Homo sapiens: one gene and its partner. The protein of the gene in region 1 interacts with the protein of each later gene in a pairwise test. Each region holds a gene or a part of one and is shown on either strand. Other genes may lie near its edges.

The links.
Region 2: the proteins of TBC1D4 (region 1) and U2SURP interact in a two-hybrid assay, tested with the Homo sapiens proteins (one study listed by BioGRID and IntAct).

Annotation. Positions count from the first base shown.
Region 1 is NC_000013.11:75,297,170-75,304,169, reverse strand, and holds part of TBC1D4 (TBC1 domain family member 4), read left to right. Parts: intron 1-1,768; coding exon 1,769-1,927; intron 1,928-4,595; coding exon 4,596-4,840; intron 4,841-7,000.
Region 2 is NC_000003.12:143,003,657-143,012,667, forward strand, and holds part of U2SURP (U2 snRNP-associated SURP motif-containing protein), read left to right. Parts: intron 1-7,158; coding exon 7,159-7,203; intron 7,204-8,565; coding exon 8,566-8,697; intron 8,698-9,011.

The DNA of each region.
Region 1 (7,000 bases):
ATTGATTCATTCAACAAATGTATAAGCAGCAAGGTATATTCTTGGATTTTATCATACAGAGATGAAAATATGCTTGCTATTCTCAAGGACCATTTAAGCCGGGAAAAGAGACAAAACTTCAATATAGAGCTAACTGTAATCTAATATGGTAATGTTACAGTATGAGTCAAATGGTGTGTGAAAAGGGACTGATTACATCTCGAGATGTTAGGGAGAGCTTCAAAAGAAAAGGTGACACTCAAGCTCATTCATGAAAGATGAATAGACGTACAATGGGAAGTCAAGCGAGGGAGCTTGGAATTCCATAAAGGCAACAGGAGGTGCAAGAAACTGGAGAAGTGAAAATAACCACAAGCGTCTAGTATACATCAGGGACTGGGAAGTAATGGTGCTTAAAAAGGTAGTTTGGAGCTATATTGTAGAGGCCTCATAAGTCATGCCAACGAGCCTCAGTTTCACCTGTCGGACAATAATACTTTCAGCTTGTACAAACTCTGGCAATCAGTCAGAAGAGATTACTGTCATTAAGCATTTCCTTAACCAGCTGGAGCAAAGGAACCCATTGCCGATTCAATGTGTCCAAACTGAAAACTCTTAGTGAGTGAAATAAAGTTGCCTGCACTGTGCAGAATTGAATTCTGTCCCTCCCAGTGCTTACTTCATTTCCCTTGGCATAAAAAACATAGTCATAGTGTCCTTGAACTGCTTGTGATACATTTTGGTGTTCAAGCATACTAGAGTTAATGTTTCATTATATGTGCTAAGCATTTTCTTTTCAAAGCCCGAATGTTGTTCTGGAGCATATCAGTTACGCCTTCTTATTGTTTACTACTTATATTATTTCTTTTTTTTTTAGACAGAGTCTCGCTGTGTCTCCCAGGCTGGAGTGCAGTGGTGAGATCTCAGCTCACTGCAACCTGTGTCCCCCAGGTTCAAACGATTCTCCTACCTCAGCCTCGCGAGTAGCTGAGATTACAGGTGCATGCCACCATGCTCGCTAATTTTTGTATTTTTAGTAGAGGCAGGGTTTCACCATGTTGGCCAGGCCGGTAATGAACACCTGACCTCAAGTGACCCACCCACCTTGGCCTCCCAAAGTGTTGGGATTACAGGCATGAGCCACCGTACCTGGCCTATTCTTTCATTTTTAATGCCCATATAAGAATGCTATTTGATTCTCTATTATAAAGTTACTTGTTGATGACAAATATTTAGAGTTGTAAATTAGGTTTAGCATTTGTTGCTATCCTCAAGCCAGATAAAGAGTGAAAATAGGCAGTAATACACTTTGGGATATCAGGATTTGGCCTCTGAAACCAGACTTTTGGAGTTCTAATTCTAAACTGCCACTTCCTAGCCATGTGAACTTGGGGCAATTACTTCATCTCTTTCTGCCTCAGCTTTCTGTCTATAAAGTGGACCTAATAGTAATTGCCTACCTTATAGTTGAGTTGTTTTCTGAGTGCATGTGCTTAGTAGCTAGGCACCCTCAATAAATGTTTTATTAATGCTCAGTCAGCAACGGGTGATGTTATTGTTAATATTGTCATTATCGTAAGTGTTGCGTGAGGGTTTTCTTTTGCAAGGCATCAAGAGCTATAGGATTCAGCTTGTCAAAATATGCTTCTGTCAATTATATTGTGTGGTCTTAGGGTGGCATGCAGTACATACAGCTGCCTGTTTACCAGAATTATATAGTGAATCAGCTGGGATCTATCAACTTCATTCCAGAGTTCAAGGCCTTGGTTATTTATCTCCTTCATTGTAGGAGTTCCCAAAAGTCGACGAGGAGAAATTTGGCAGTTTCTGGCTTTACAGTACCGACTCAGACACAGATTGCCTAATAAACAACAGCCTCCTGACATATCCTATAAGGAACTTTTGAAGCAGCTCACTGCTCAGCAGCATGCGATTCTCGTGGATTTAGGTATGTTTGTCATGTGGATTATAATTTACAAAAGTAAACAGCTGATCCCTCTGTTAAGTTTTTTTGGTTTTTGTTTGTTCTTGGTGCTGATAAAGAGCACCTGTTGGCATATGCAGAGCCGTTGACTTTGTCCTTTACTGAGGGCAAGTTGGCCTTATACCTGATTGACGATCCCATAAATGCCTGCGTGTTAAATGAAGTTTTCACCCCAAAACTTTGCCTCTGCAAAGGGAGCCATCTTATATTTAAATTATTATAAAGGTCATATTATGGGGTGCTCTCAGTTACTGCATTTTGAACAACTGACTTTTTAGGGCAGATAGTTGTATCTTAATCAATGCTGGTTTTGAAATAGCTTAGAATAGGTTAAAAATTTAACAAAGGTGTACTAGGTATTCCTGGACACACTGCTGAAAACAATCCTTTATATGTCACTTTAAAAAGCAGCATGATAAATGGTTATGTTGGTGGAAATTATGACTATACACCTATAGGGTGAGTGAAACATTAGTTGCACTAATAGTGTAGGAATGGGTACTCATGACCTGGCGGAGAATTTCCAGTGACAGAATCATAAAGCAGTCTTTTTTTTTTTTTTGAGATGGAGTCTCCCTCTGTTGCCCAGGCTGGAGTGCAGTGGCACGATCTCTGCTCACTGCAAGCTCCGCCTCCCAGGTTCATGCCATTCTCCTGCCTCAGCCTCCTGAGTAGCTGGGACTACAGGCACCAGCCACCACGCCCGGCTAATTTTTTTTTTGTATTTTTAGTAGAGATGGGGTTTCACCGTGTTAGCCAGGATGGTCTCAATCTCCTGACCTCGTGATCCACCCGCCTCGGCCTCCCAGAGTGCTGGGATTACAGGCATGAGCCACCGTGCCCAGCCAGCAGTCTTCTTAAATGCTGATTTTCAAATAACTTATGGAAATAAAAATGCTTTGATTTTTAAAGATTGTATTGTCTCTAATTTTTCTCTAACATACTTTATTATTTAAAAATATCTACATTATTAGATTAAATATTATATATTGGCATTTGACCACTTTATTTGTACTCCTAAAAGTTGATATATGTCAGGTGGCCAGATATGTTATTTGGGCCCATTTGGGAAAATACAAGATTACCTTATGTTTGGGGTCATCTTATATTAGGGCATATGAAAAATCACTAGCCAAACCCTAGTTTTTACCTCTGTTCCTTTTGGATGACAAATGGCTCTTACTGGGAAAGGACCCAGCTCAGTTAATTATTTTTTTGAGCCCAGCGGAATTAAAAAGGGGATTTTACAGAGAAACTGAAAATGAGTTTTTGTGCTGATTGTGCCACTAATTGTGGTCTTAGACATATTACCTTCCTTCTGAGCGTCCATCCTCTCTACTAAGTGGGGACATTGAACAAGGCAATCCCTATGTTCCCAAGCAAATCTGTGGTTCTCTGACCATAAATTGATGATACAATCAGGGTTAGTCACGATGTCCTATTAAAGAGAGAAAATGAGATCATATTACAGTCAGACAAAAATGGAGCTAGAATCAAGTTAATGGATAGAAAGTGTATTTATAGTTTTCCTTAGTAAAAATTTTAAGTGAGAAAGTAAAACCATAATTTTAAAAATTGCTTATTTGGCTCTGCTTGTAGCCATCTGTGTTTCTTCAGCATGCAATTGTTATTTTCTCATATCTTCCTCTTACTGGCTCTGCAGAATTAATCTTATTGGTTCCTAGAAAAAAAAATCACTTTTAAGCATATGTGGGAGAAAACATTTTAAAACCTGGCACTCTTGCAAGTTCTAAATGACATGAGTAATCATTTCACAAGGAAGCTAACATCCCCCTTCATTTTTGTGGCCCTAGAAAAATGCCCATACCAATATAGACAGCTTTGATGTGAAGACGGATTTGTTTCTGTGTATAGAACTCTCCTTTTAGTGATGCAGGACTCACATTGCCAGCTCAAGTGTCTCTGTGGTAATTTTATACCTAGAGGTATATTTTAGAGGGGAATTTATTTGAAATTGACTTGACCCTTTATTTTCCTTGATATTTTTAGATATTGAAAAAGAAAAGTGGTTTACATGGCTCATGGAGGTATTTTAAGAGCAGAGAGCGAACGATAGTTGAAAAAGCAGTTTTCTTCTGAATGACAGTCTGAATGTAAAGTCAAACAAACCCAAAAAGTCCCTCCAGTGTCATAAGAAAAGCAGAAATAAACCTGTTTATAGACTATGAAGATTTTCTTTTAAATAATATAATATGTCTTACAGACTTCTGGTTTCATTTAGAAGGTAGTCTTTATATGAATTAGAATTTGCCTTGCTTTATAGTCAGAATAAAATTTATATTCCATTTTCCTGGTATTTCTCCTGGGTACATCATTGGTTTGTGGATTTTTATTGTATTTTTTTTTTTTTTTTTTTTTTTTTGCTGGAAAGAAGTACTGGTTAGCATAAAATGTTTCCTCCCATATCGTATATGTGAAGATGGTATGGTGGCCTGGCAGAACTTGGGGTGAGAGAGGGAGAGACTCTTAGTTACATGGTGACTCTAAGCAACTCTCACTGGTTTGGGAAAGAGTGTCTGTTTATTCTTGGAGGTCACTGAATTGCAATTTCACTGTTGTCTCCAAGGCATGAGGACATTTCAAAAAATATTTTCCTTCTTTTCCTCTGCAGGAAGGACGTTTCCTACTCACCCTTACTTTTCAGTACAGCTTGGGCCAGGACAGCTGTCACTGTTTAACCTCCTGAAAGCCTATTCTTTGCTGGACAAAGAAGTGGGATACTGTCAGGGGATCAGCTTTGTGGCTGGAGTCCTGCTTCTGCACATGAGTGAAGAGCAAGCCTTTGAAATGCTGAAATTCCTCATGTATGACCTCGGCTTCCGCAAGCAGTACAGACCTGACATGATGTCGCTGCAGGTGAGGCACTTGTGCTTCCCGAGGAAGGTGTGAGACTATTACCAGAAATCCTGGCCCTCTTCTCAATTATTACAGTTCAGATTTAAAGAAATGTAGAGCCATTGTCTTAGAACTTGGGTAAAGATTGGGGCATGTTTTAGTTCACTTAGTGTGGGATTTGCTATTTAGGTAAACTTCTAAGTGTATGAGACCCAGAGGCAGAATACCTTTTCCATAAAATTCCTGAAGTAAGTAAATAAGTAATTTAAGAAAGGTAGGTGATGAGGACCCAGTCCTTTATGCCCTAAGTCTATGGGTTACATGGAGAAGGTATCAAATCATCTTTATTCACTTTTTCTCAACTTCTCAGTTGAAAAGGCTCACAGATCTTTTGTTTACAATCTGAAAGTATCTTTATCCCTTTACTTTTGAGTACACAAATAGCAGATACCATGTTATGGTTCTTTTTGAACTTATCATTGATATCTCCCCTCCTTTATCTTCATGTAAGATAGGCCTTTACAGAGGAAAAAGTGTGAAAGCCAGTGGTGCCTTTTCAGTCTGCTTTGTGTGTGTGTGTGTGTATGTGTGTGTGTGTGTGATGGAATCTTGCTTTGTTGCCCAGGCTGGAGTGCAGTGGCACGATCTCGGCTCACTGCAATCTCTGCCTCCCGGGTTCAAGCCATTCTGCTGCCTCAGCCTCCCCAGTAGCTGGGATTACAGGCAGGTGCCACCATGCCTGGCTAATTTTTTTGTATTTCTAGTAGAGATGGGGTTTCACCATGTTGGCCAGGCTGGTGTTGAACTCCTGACCTCAGGTGATCCGCCCGCCTCAGCCTCCCAGAATGCTGGGATTACAGGCTTGAGCCACTGAGTCTGCTTTTCTTAGCAGGCTCTGAAGAAGCACCATTAAGATTTTCCAGGTATTTTGAGTGGGGTATTAACTGCCACTGCTGTCTTTAGCCTACCTCAGACTCCCTGTTTGCACATTTCTCTCCTAGTTTTCACTTCTCTAAGTGGGTTGGTTGCTAATAAGCAGTTTAAATTTTGTCTATAGATACTTAAACAACCACTGCCTGGCAATTTAAAGCTTTCAGTGGTTAAAAATATAAAAGAAGACTTTAAAGAGGATTCTCAGGTTTTTCCTCCCTTGAAATGAGGTATGCATGACTCCCAGTTCATCATAATACTGTGCTTTAGATAAGAAGTAATAGTTTAAAGATGCTTTTAAAATATACTATTTTTTTCTGTTTCCCAGAGATGAGTTTTTTGCCTTTAATATCTCAGTTGCCAATGTATAACAAAAGAATTGTATTTTTAGTCTGAGCGTTATAGTAAATGATATTTTTTGAGAGTATGAATGGAGATGAAGTATTCCATTTTTCTTTACTTTCTGAAGGTAAAATTTTGACTGGGGAGATAGGGCTTTGCTATCAACATTAGGTTTTCTGGTGTGAGTTCATATGATTTGATTCCTCATTGATGACTATTCGTAGGTTTAACAAGTCAAATAACAACTGTGGAAAGTTTTATTTTTTATTCCTAAAGAGTTTACCTGTATCTTTTTATCTTTTTATCGTTTTTTTTTTTTTTGGAGACGGAGTCTTGCTCTGTCACCCAGGCAGGAGTGCAGTGGCGCGATCTTGGCTCACTGCAACCTCCACCTCCTGGGTTCAAGTGATTCTCCTGCCTCAGCCTCCCGAGTAGCTGGGATTACAGGCATGCACTACCATACCCTGCTAAATTTTTTGTATTTTTAGTAGAGTTGGGGTTTCACTGTGTTGGGCAGGCTGGTCTCAAACTTCCGGACCTCAGGTGATCCACCTGCCTTGACCTCCCAAAGTGCTGGGATTACAGGCGTGACCCACTGTGCCTGGTCACCTGTATCTTAATATCAGATAGGAATCAGATGGTCTTGTAAGGAATTCAATAATTCTGATTTTCAGAAACAACGGTTTGGTAGCTATTATTAGAATTTCAAAGATACAGGGAAGTACCTGTGAGTAGTGTTTGATCTGGGTCCACAGATAAAAGGATAATAGCTATCAGTTTAAAAATACAATGATATTTCAACTTAAAAATTATTCATCAATTTGACATTACAAAAATTCATGTAAATCGGATTTATACATTCATTTAATATGGACTGTAAGTACCAAGAAGTATTTTATGTCTATAATT
Region 2 (9,011 bases), on another chromosome or scaffold:
GCTTTTTATTTATTTTATTTCTTTTTTTTTTTTTTTTTTTTTTTTGTGAAAGAGTTTCGCTCTGTCGCCCAGGCTGGAGTGCTGGAGTGCAGTGGCACAATCTCGGCTCATTGCAACCTCCGCCTCCCGGGTTCAAGTGATTCTCCTGCCTCAGCCTCCCTAGTAGCTGGGACTACAGGCGCCCGCCAGTACGCCCGGCTAATTTTTTGTATTTTAGTAGAGACGGGGTTTCACCATGTTGGCCAGGATGGTCTCGATCTCTTGACCTCGTGATCCACCCGCCTCAGCCTCCCAAAGTGATGGGATTACAGGCGTGAGCCACCGTGCCCCGCCCTGCTTCCCTGCTTTTTATTTCTAACACATAATTTATTAGAGAAATTGTAAGATCATTTTGGCTAATACTACAGTATTTAGAATTTCTAGCCTTTGATATCTGGTTTGATTTCCTTTCCTCTGGAAAGAACAGATGAGTGGCTTATATTTTACAATACAGATGGAGTGAACAGATACTTCTGTTTCATGATTCGTCGTTTTCTTTGGTAGTTACATTCCCGTTAATATGGATAGGGATGCTTATTATATTTCTAGACATTGGGAAAATGTTAATTTTAAATGTACAATATGGCAAAATTATTAACATTTCTTAATTATAAAAAGATTAAATTAGATAACCTCTACAGGTCTTCTAGTTGGGGTGTTTTTTTTTTTTTTTTTTTTTTTTTTTTGAGAGGGAGTCTTGCCTTGTCGCCCAGGCTGGAGTGCAGTGGTGCAATCTCAGCTCACTGCAACCTCTGCCTCCTGGGTTCAAGCAATTCTTCTGCCTCAGCCTCCCGAGTAGCTGGGACTACAGGCGCCTGGCCAATTTTTGTATTTTTAGTAGAGATGGGGTTTCATCTGTTGGCCTCTTGACCTTGTGACCCCCCCCCCCCGCCTCGGCCTCCCAAAGTGCGGGGATTATAGGCGTGAGCCACCGTGCCTGGCTTCTAGTTTTAAAATGATACTTTATGTATGTGTATGTACTTGAATGACTTACCTTTATTCATAATTGTCCCTAATGAAGAGACCCCTGTGCACTTTAATTTTCTGTGTAATTTTGTTGTGCTTTGCATTTTAGAGCCTGGCAGATGTAGACATTTAACAAATGTTCTAGAAATGAGCTAAAATTTTCCTGTGCATTTGTTTGTTTATCACTAGTCTAAAATATTGCTTGGTTGGGGAGGGGTGTTGATGTTATGTAGTAGCTTTCATTTTGAGAGGAGAGAGAGAGAGCCTGTAATTGTTTACTTATAAAATTGTTAAGCATATTTCCTTAGAATTTAATTTATAAAAAAATTACTGTTTTTGACTGTCAATTGTTTGCTTACTCAGCAAAATTAGGATATGAAGAAAATGTAGTATTTTCTTTCCTTCTGCCATCTCCTGTGCTGGTAATATTGCTAATGTAATGTAATTGTGTGCCCTGCTATTTCACTCTGTGACTATGGCTTTTTTTTTTTTTTTCTTTTTTGCCGTATCGCCAAAAATTGAGTTAGGTGAATGGATAAAACAAAATACTACAGGCTTCCTTGGACATCCAGTGCTGAATTGCTTTGGGAACTGTTTTGATTGACTGCCTTTGCTGATTAACAAAAAGTATCACTTTTAAGAAATAAGTAAACTGAGGACCTGTTCAAGGCTTGTGAACCTTAGGTATTTATTACTGCCAGTTTTCATTTTTTGTGGTACCTGAAAGTTTATGAAAAAGTCCAAACAAAATACAAACCTTGAAAATCAGGCTTTCAAACAGTTTGCCAATTTTAAACTGAATCTTTATTATGGTTTATGGTTGTAACCTTATCTTAAAATGTAAGGTAGTTTTTTTGGTAGAAGGTTTTGTTTTGGTCTGGAAGGTAGAACTGAACTTCCTTCCATTTTCTCGATTGATAACTTTTTCGAAACTTGAACCTGCAGCACGGGTGCTAGAATATGCCTGTTGGTATGGTTTTAAAAATAATTCCTATCTTTCTGGATTGAATTGTTTTCTGAAAGTCCAGTTTTTATTTTCACTTTTTGTTTTTTATTTCTGAAGCTTTGTTTTCCTTGGAAAGTAAACCTAAGAAAGATACCCATTTGCCTTACTGGGTATCATTGAGAGAAGAGCTCATTTAGTATGCCGGTTGAAGTATCTACCCCTCTACCCTCCACCCTTTTTTTCAAGGAGCCATCATTTTTGGAATAAAAAGAAAAACTTGCTACAAGATATTAAAATCAAAAATAGTAATATTACAAACTATTTGCCTCATTCTAGTATAGGTGGTTTTAACATTTTATTGCACATCAGCTGTGAGCTGGATATTTTGCTGAAATAACGTTTTTGAAAGCAAGATACATTTGTCAGTAGCACTTGAGGCTAACGGTAGTGTTAGACATATATTCCTTGAGTTAAGTTTTTTCACAAGGCCCTTCCTCAGTTTAGATAAACTATAGGTTATTCAGAGTGTACTTACAACTTTTCATATAGTATTGGTAGTGTTTTGAATAATTTAAAAAATCATCTTAGGTTTGTTATTTAACTTTATTTATATAGTGCTTGTATTAATGATTTTGTGAATGTTTTTTAAAGATGGATACCTTGATTTGGCTTGGATAGTGGTATTAAGCTAGGTAGCTGTTGTTAATGAGTGGACAGCATAGTATGTTGATAGTGTGGAGTGTAATTTTGTTTGGTGGTAGGCACTTGTTCTGACAAGTCAAGTATATTGAGACTCTGTCGCTTGCCAGATCTTGTGCTTGATGTTGAGTTAGAAAATGTTAAATAAGAATGTACCCATTTTTAGCGGCCGGGCACAGTGCCTCCCGCCTGTAATCCCAGCACTTTGGGAGGCCAAGGCGGGTGGATCACCTGAGGTCGGGAGTTCAAGACCAGCCTGACCAATATGGAGAAACCCCATCTCTGCTGAAAATACAAAATTAGCTGGGCATGGTGGCACATGCTACTCGGGAGGCTGAGGCAGGAGAATCGCTTGAACCTGGGAGGCGGAGGTTGCCGAGAGCCGAGATCATGCCATTGCACTCCAGCCTGGGCAAAAAGAGCGAAACTCCGTCTCAAAAAAAAGAATGTACCCATCTTTGAGGAGCATGCTGTCTAGTAGAAGAGAGTCAGCACAATGCAATTAAGGTGGTGTTATGCTTCCTATAGGAGAGATTGTTAAACTTGTGGAGATGAAAGTTGCTTCTCTTAGAGGGTGAGAGGAGAAACGTGGGAGATTAGGAGACAGATACACGAATGGAGAGCTCACTAGGCAGAATGGTAGTGTTGGAGGAATGTTGCTGTGGATAGCTTGGTAATTTGGAAACTCAGATGTGGGGTTTTCACTTAAAGTAAAATTGGAGCAGCCAGAAGAAAACTAGTTTTGTTCTCAGCCAGCAAGCTATAGGGCAACAGGTAGTGTAGTTGGCTTCACTTTTATCCCTTTAGCAGCCATCAGAATGATCTTTTTTCCTTTTGGATTTTCTTGCTGTCCCTCCCCACATTTCTACTGTCTGCTTTCTCTGCCTTAAAATAAATTTCTCTTGTGTATGCTACTTTATTGTGTCAAACTTCCCTTAGTCTGCCTTTTCACTTCTTCCTTTTGTATTTTTCTTTTCTTTTCTTTTTTTTTTTTTCCAGAGACAGGGGTTCTTGCTATGTTGCCCAGGCTGGTCTTGAACTCCTGGCCTCGAGCAGTCGTCCCACCTCAGCCTCCCTAGTAGCTGAGATTATAGGCATGAGCCACTCCCTCCAGCAGCTTTTGGGTCCTTTCAAGAGATTTTTTTTTTTTTTTTTTTGAGACAGAGTCTCGCTCTGTCGCCCAGGCCTGCAGTAGTGCTATCTCAGCTCACTGCAAGCTCCGCCTCCCGGGTTCACGTCATTCTCCTGCCTCAGCCTCCCGAGTAGCTGGGACTACAGGTGCCCGCCACCGCACCTGGCCAATTTTTTGTATTTTTAGTAGAGACGGGATTTTGCTGTGTTAGCCAGGATGGTCTTGATCTCCTCTGACTTTGTGATCCGCCCGCCTTGGCCTCCCAAAGTGCTGAGATTACAGGCGTGAGCCACCGCGCCCGGCCGACTTCAGGAGATCTTTAGGCATCATTGGTTTGTGTTCTTCAGTTAAAAATAAAAAGCCAAACTCAAGACAAAGAATACAGTTCAGTTCCAGGTTAGGAAGAGGGAGAAGCTCAGCTTCTGAAGTAGTGCTATATTTACTGTTTACCTTGACTGTTATCTTTAGAAGTTGATGATTATTTTAAAAATTGTGTTAACTGCTGTTTGAACTGTTAAAGTTCCGTGCTGAATGCTATGTAGCTGTAGGTATGTATCAGTGGAAAATGTCTGGTTTGCAGTAAATGTGATTAGTGACATCTTAAGCTAACTGAAATCAGCTGGTGCATTGTCCTACACCGGTGCATTGTGCTACACTATGCTGTTACTGCTCTGTTTGCAAATTTATCAAATTGTGTAATTTTGAAAGCTGACAAAATTGTTACTTTTGAACTGATTATTTTTGTATTAGAGATTATTTAATTTGGTGAATGGTTACGCAAGTGAGATCCTTGAAGATTATAGAGCTTCATCTTTTGATGACTTGGAGTCAGGGAAGAGTTAACTATATGGAAATAGGCAGAATGCCTAGGTTCTTGTATCTTTTGTTTTTAAATCCTAGAAATGATGATTTGGATGTGGTGGCATCAAAGACTACAGAAAGGGTAGCGCTTTCTTAGTTATTCTTTTGGATGCTTATTCTTTCTGGGTGAACTTTAGAATTGTTTTGGCAATTCTTTTGCCCCCTTGCAAATATTTCCCTTTGGAATTTAGAGCGGTTGAATGAAATTGTATTAAATATGTAAAGAAATTTAGGTGTCATTGACATTATCTTAATATTGAATTTTCCCATCCAGTAATATGAATCTTTTGAAAAGGTGGCTTGAGTAACTGGATTTTTCTCGAAGTTTTTGTTTTCTTCACAAGGGTTATATACATTTCTTAAATTGGTTTCTAGATGTTTTTATATTTTTTGTTGCTTTTATGATTAGGATGTTTTTGTTGCTTAGCAAGTTAATACTGGTGTATTGGAAGGCAATTGAGTTTTTTTTGTTACTATTGTTTGTTTTTGATATGGAGTCTCTGTCGCCTAGGCGGTAGTGCAGTGGCGCGATCTCAGCTCACTGCAAGCTCTGCCTCCCGGGTTCACACCATTCTCCTGCCTCAGCGAGTAGCTGGGACTACAGGCGCCTGGCTAATTTTTGTATTTTTAGTAGAGATGGGGTTTCACCAGGTTTGGCCAGGATGGTCTCCATCTCTTGATCCACCCGCCTCGGCCTCCCAAAGTGCTCGGATTACAGGCGTGAGCCACTGCACCTGGCCCAGGCAGTTGATTTTTTTCAGTCCCTTCAGCCTCTTGCCTGAACTTGTTTTTCTTTTGTAAGAGTAGTTATTTATTCTTTTGGATTTTTAAATTTCTAGATATTTGTAAATTTATGCATTTCAAGATATGTTTCAGGGTGTGTTTCATAGTTAATAAATACTAAAAATTTTCTTTTATACCACCTTGACATTTAAGAAAGATTAGCCGCTAGAAGAAAATCAGGGTGGACACAAAAGTTGGGGACAGAAAAACCATGGACAGAAAGAGTGAGATGGGGCCGGGTGCGGTCGCTCATGTCTGTAATCCTAGCACTTTCAGAGGCTGAGGTGGACAGATCACCTGAGGTCAGGAGTTCGAGACCAGCCTGGCCAACGTGGTAAAACTCCGTCTCTACTAAAAATACAAAAATTAGCCAGGCATGGTGGTGCGTGCCTGTACTCCTAGCTACCCAGGAGGCTGAGGGAGGAGAATTACTGGAACCCGGGAGGCGGAGGCTGCAGTGAGCCGAGGTCGCGCCACTGTACTCCAGCCTGGGAGACAGAGTAAGACTCTGTCTCAAGAAAAAAAAAAAATGAAAGAAAGAATGAGATGGGAGGGGTCCCAGTGCTTGGTTGTCCTGTTGTCCTGGGCTGATTTTTGCCTATGCTAATGCGCAATACAGTGGAGTTCAGAGGAGTAAATTGATTCAGTGTAAAAATCTTACCAGCTGTTCTTAGCCTTATGTCTGGACAATGTAAATAAAACAATACTGTATGGATCTTTGCTCTTTTTTAAATAACATGAATCTTCAGTTTTTCTCTTAAACTAATATTTTATCTTGTACTTTATATGACATCTTGTCTGGGAGTTGGGGTCAGGTGAGATATTTGTGATCTCAATATTCTTGATTTCATTTGAACATTTGACACTTAAATATATAAATAAAAACAAGTAAAATTTCACTACCGTATACCCTCAAAAATAAAAACAGCTCAGTGACAGTTATATTTTGGATCCCCAAGTAAAAATTCTTGGAGAATCTTTCTTTCAGAAAGATAGCATACATTATTTAGTTAATCGTCCTACAGCTTGTCATCTTTGTCTTTACATGTGTAGTGGCAACAAGTTATTGCATACCATGTATAATCTGATAGGTAGATCACTTAAGAAAAGTTGAAGTTTTAACAGTTGACATCACTGGAAGATATTATATGAACTCTTTCTCATGCCACCAGGCAGCCTGTGACATGCTATCGAATCATCTCCCTTAAAACGAGTTGTAAATGGTGCCTTATTGGGGATTTGATAATATTTTCTGGAACTTTGCAGAATTTGTACCTTTTAATAGACAGCAAGGATTTATATGTGGATTTCTTTATGTGGCTTTGGGTGATTAGAGAAAGAGAGTTCTCGTGCTGTGGACCAAGAAGTTGCTGGGCAGTGCTGTGGCAGTAAACGATGCATCTATGATTAGGAAGAGCTTTTGCATAAAACTGTGTAAAAATGGTGGTTAGGTTTCCAGTGTATACTATAAAGAGGTAATTTTGCCTCATATATATCCCACTAGTGTTTATTATATTTTTGGAAATATGCAGGCTGAATTTTAAAGAAATGACTTACACATTTACTTTGTATCACAATCTTTTCATAAGTCAGAGACTGCCTTTGCTCAGTTTTATTAGCTGAGGAGAAATTGCCAGAAGTTAGGAAACTCTTAAGTTTGTATAACACGAGAGACATGTTTTGTTAGTATAAGACATTTTAAATTATTGACTTTTATTTTTGATACTTGTAGACGAGATCATCAGATGTTCATTCATCTGGATCTTCAGATGCACATGTGAGTATAGAAGGCAATCTTTGTCTTTTTTCCTTTAAAATTTAACTTCTCCTCATATGTATCCCTACATCAATGATTTTACTTGACAAATAAATACAATTGTATGTGCTTTTTTCTTTTACTCTTTTTTTTCTAGGCGCCTTCCTTTTTTTTTTTTATGTTCTGCTTGCATAACTTAGCCCTCTGAAGCGATGTTAGAAACCTAGTATGTATATTTCCTTATGATTTTTATTGTGTAAAAATCTGTACATACATAACGTATCTATACTTATACTTTGACTATGGGATTGCATTATGCATATGCCTTTCTCACCGCACAAAACATATGTTGGAAATCCCTGCAGGTAAACTGTTAACAGCTCTAATCTGTTCTTTCTTAAGGCATCATAATGTTCTGTGGTGGGGAAGTGCAGTTGTTTGTTATTTCTTTGTTGATGGGCATATATTTTTTGTTTAAAGCTTTCAAGTAACATTTTGGATAGATAATACTACAATAAGTATTTTTTTAATATATGTTATTACAGCAGTGTTCAAAGTGTAGTCTGAAGACCCCTGGAGTCACTGAGAATCTCTGAGAAGGGTCTGTGAATTCAAAACTATTTTGTAATAATACTAAGGCATTATTTATGCCTTTTTCACCATTTTGGCATTTGCACTAATGCAAGTGTAGCTGGAGGTACAAAAGCATTTGGTGGGTAAACTGTTGGCACTTCAGCACAGATCAAGGCAGTGACACCAGAGTATACTTGTAGTCATTATATTCTTCCCCACCAGGCACAATAATTTCACTTAAAAAACTAGCATAATTAGAAATAATTTTTACTGCTTGATGATGCAGTAAAAGTTACTACTATTTTACTACTTCATCAAGCAGTAAAAATTATTACTATTGTCTTCATCTTTTGTGTAGTTCGTCTTAATATTCTGTGTGATAAAATAAGAAGTACGTATAACACTTATGCTTACCAAAATGTGATGTTTGTTTGAGTTGAGAAATGAAACTAGCTGCTTTTTTCATGAAACACCAGTTTTACTTGGGAGTGACTGACAGGCAAACTATGGTGAATCAGACTTGGGGATTTTGGCAGACATTTTCTTGAAAATGAAGGTAACGAACCTGTTACTTCAAGGAAAACAACTGTTACCAATATAAAATTCAAGCTTGTGAGTTAGAGTTATTGAAAACTTTCCCTGTTCTTAAGAACTTTTTTGGTGAAATCAATGGTGATATTAAGGGATGTGATATTTTGATAATCTACAATGAAATTTGTCAATATCTGGCATGGCTTATTCCTAGTTTTCAGTGCTATATATGTATATATGTGTGGTTTGTTTTTTTCTCTTGTTTTACTTTTCCTGAAGATGGATGCATCTGGACCCTCAGATAGTGATATGCCAAGTCGGACACGACCTAAGAGCCCAAGAAAACATAATTATAGGAATGAAAGTGCCCGTGAAAGCCTTTGTGATTCTCCTCATCAGAATCTCTCAAGAGTGAGTATAGATAAGATAAGGTAAAGATAAGAAAGGATAGTTAATGATTTTAATCTGTCTTTGACTGAATTTAGTGGTCGAATATTTGGTTTTGTATGTGTTTCATCTTATTCTATTTGAAAATAGCATTCTTTTTGTATTTGGGATAACAGTAAACTCATTTATGTAGGGACATCTTTTTAGCTCAAATGTGAGATATTTCATTTTAGAGTTTTAAATTTTATTTGAAAAACAAAGTAGTGTTTGGATTTAAAATGGTTAATTGTCAAGTTTATCTTTCCCCACTTAAACATTTATTGAACCAAGTGCGAAAT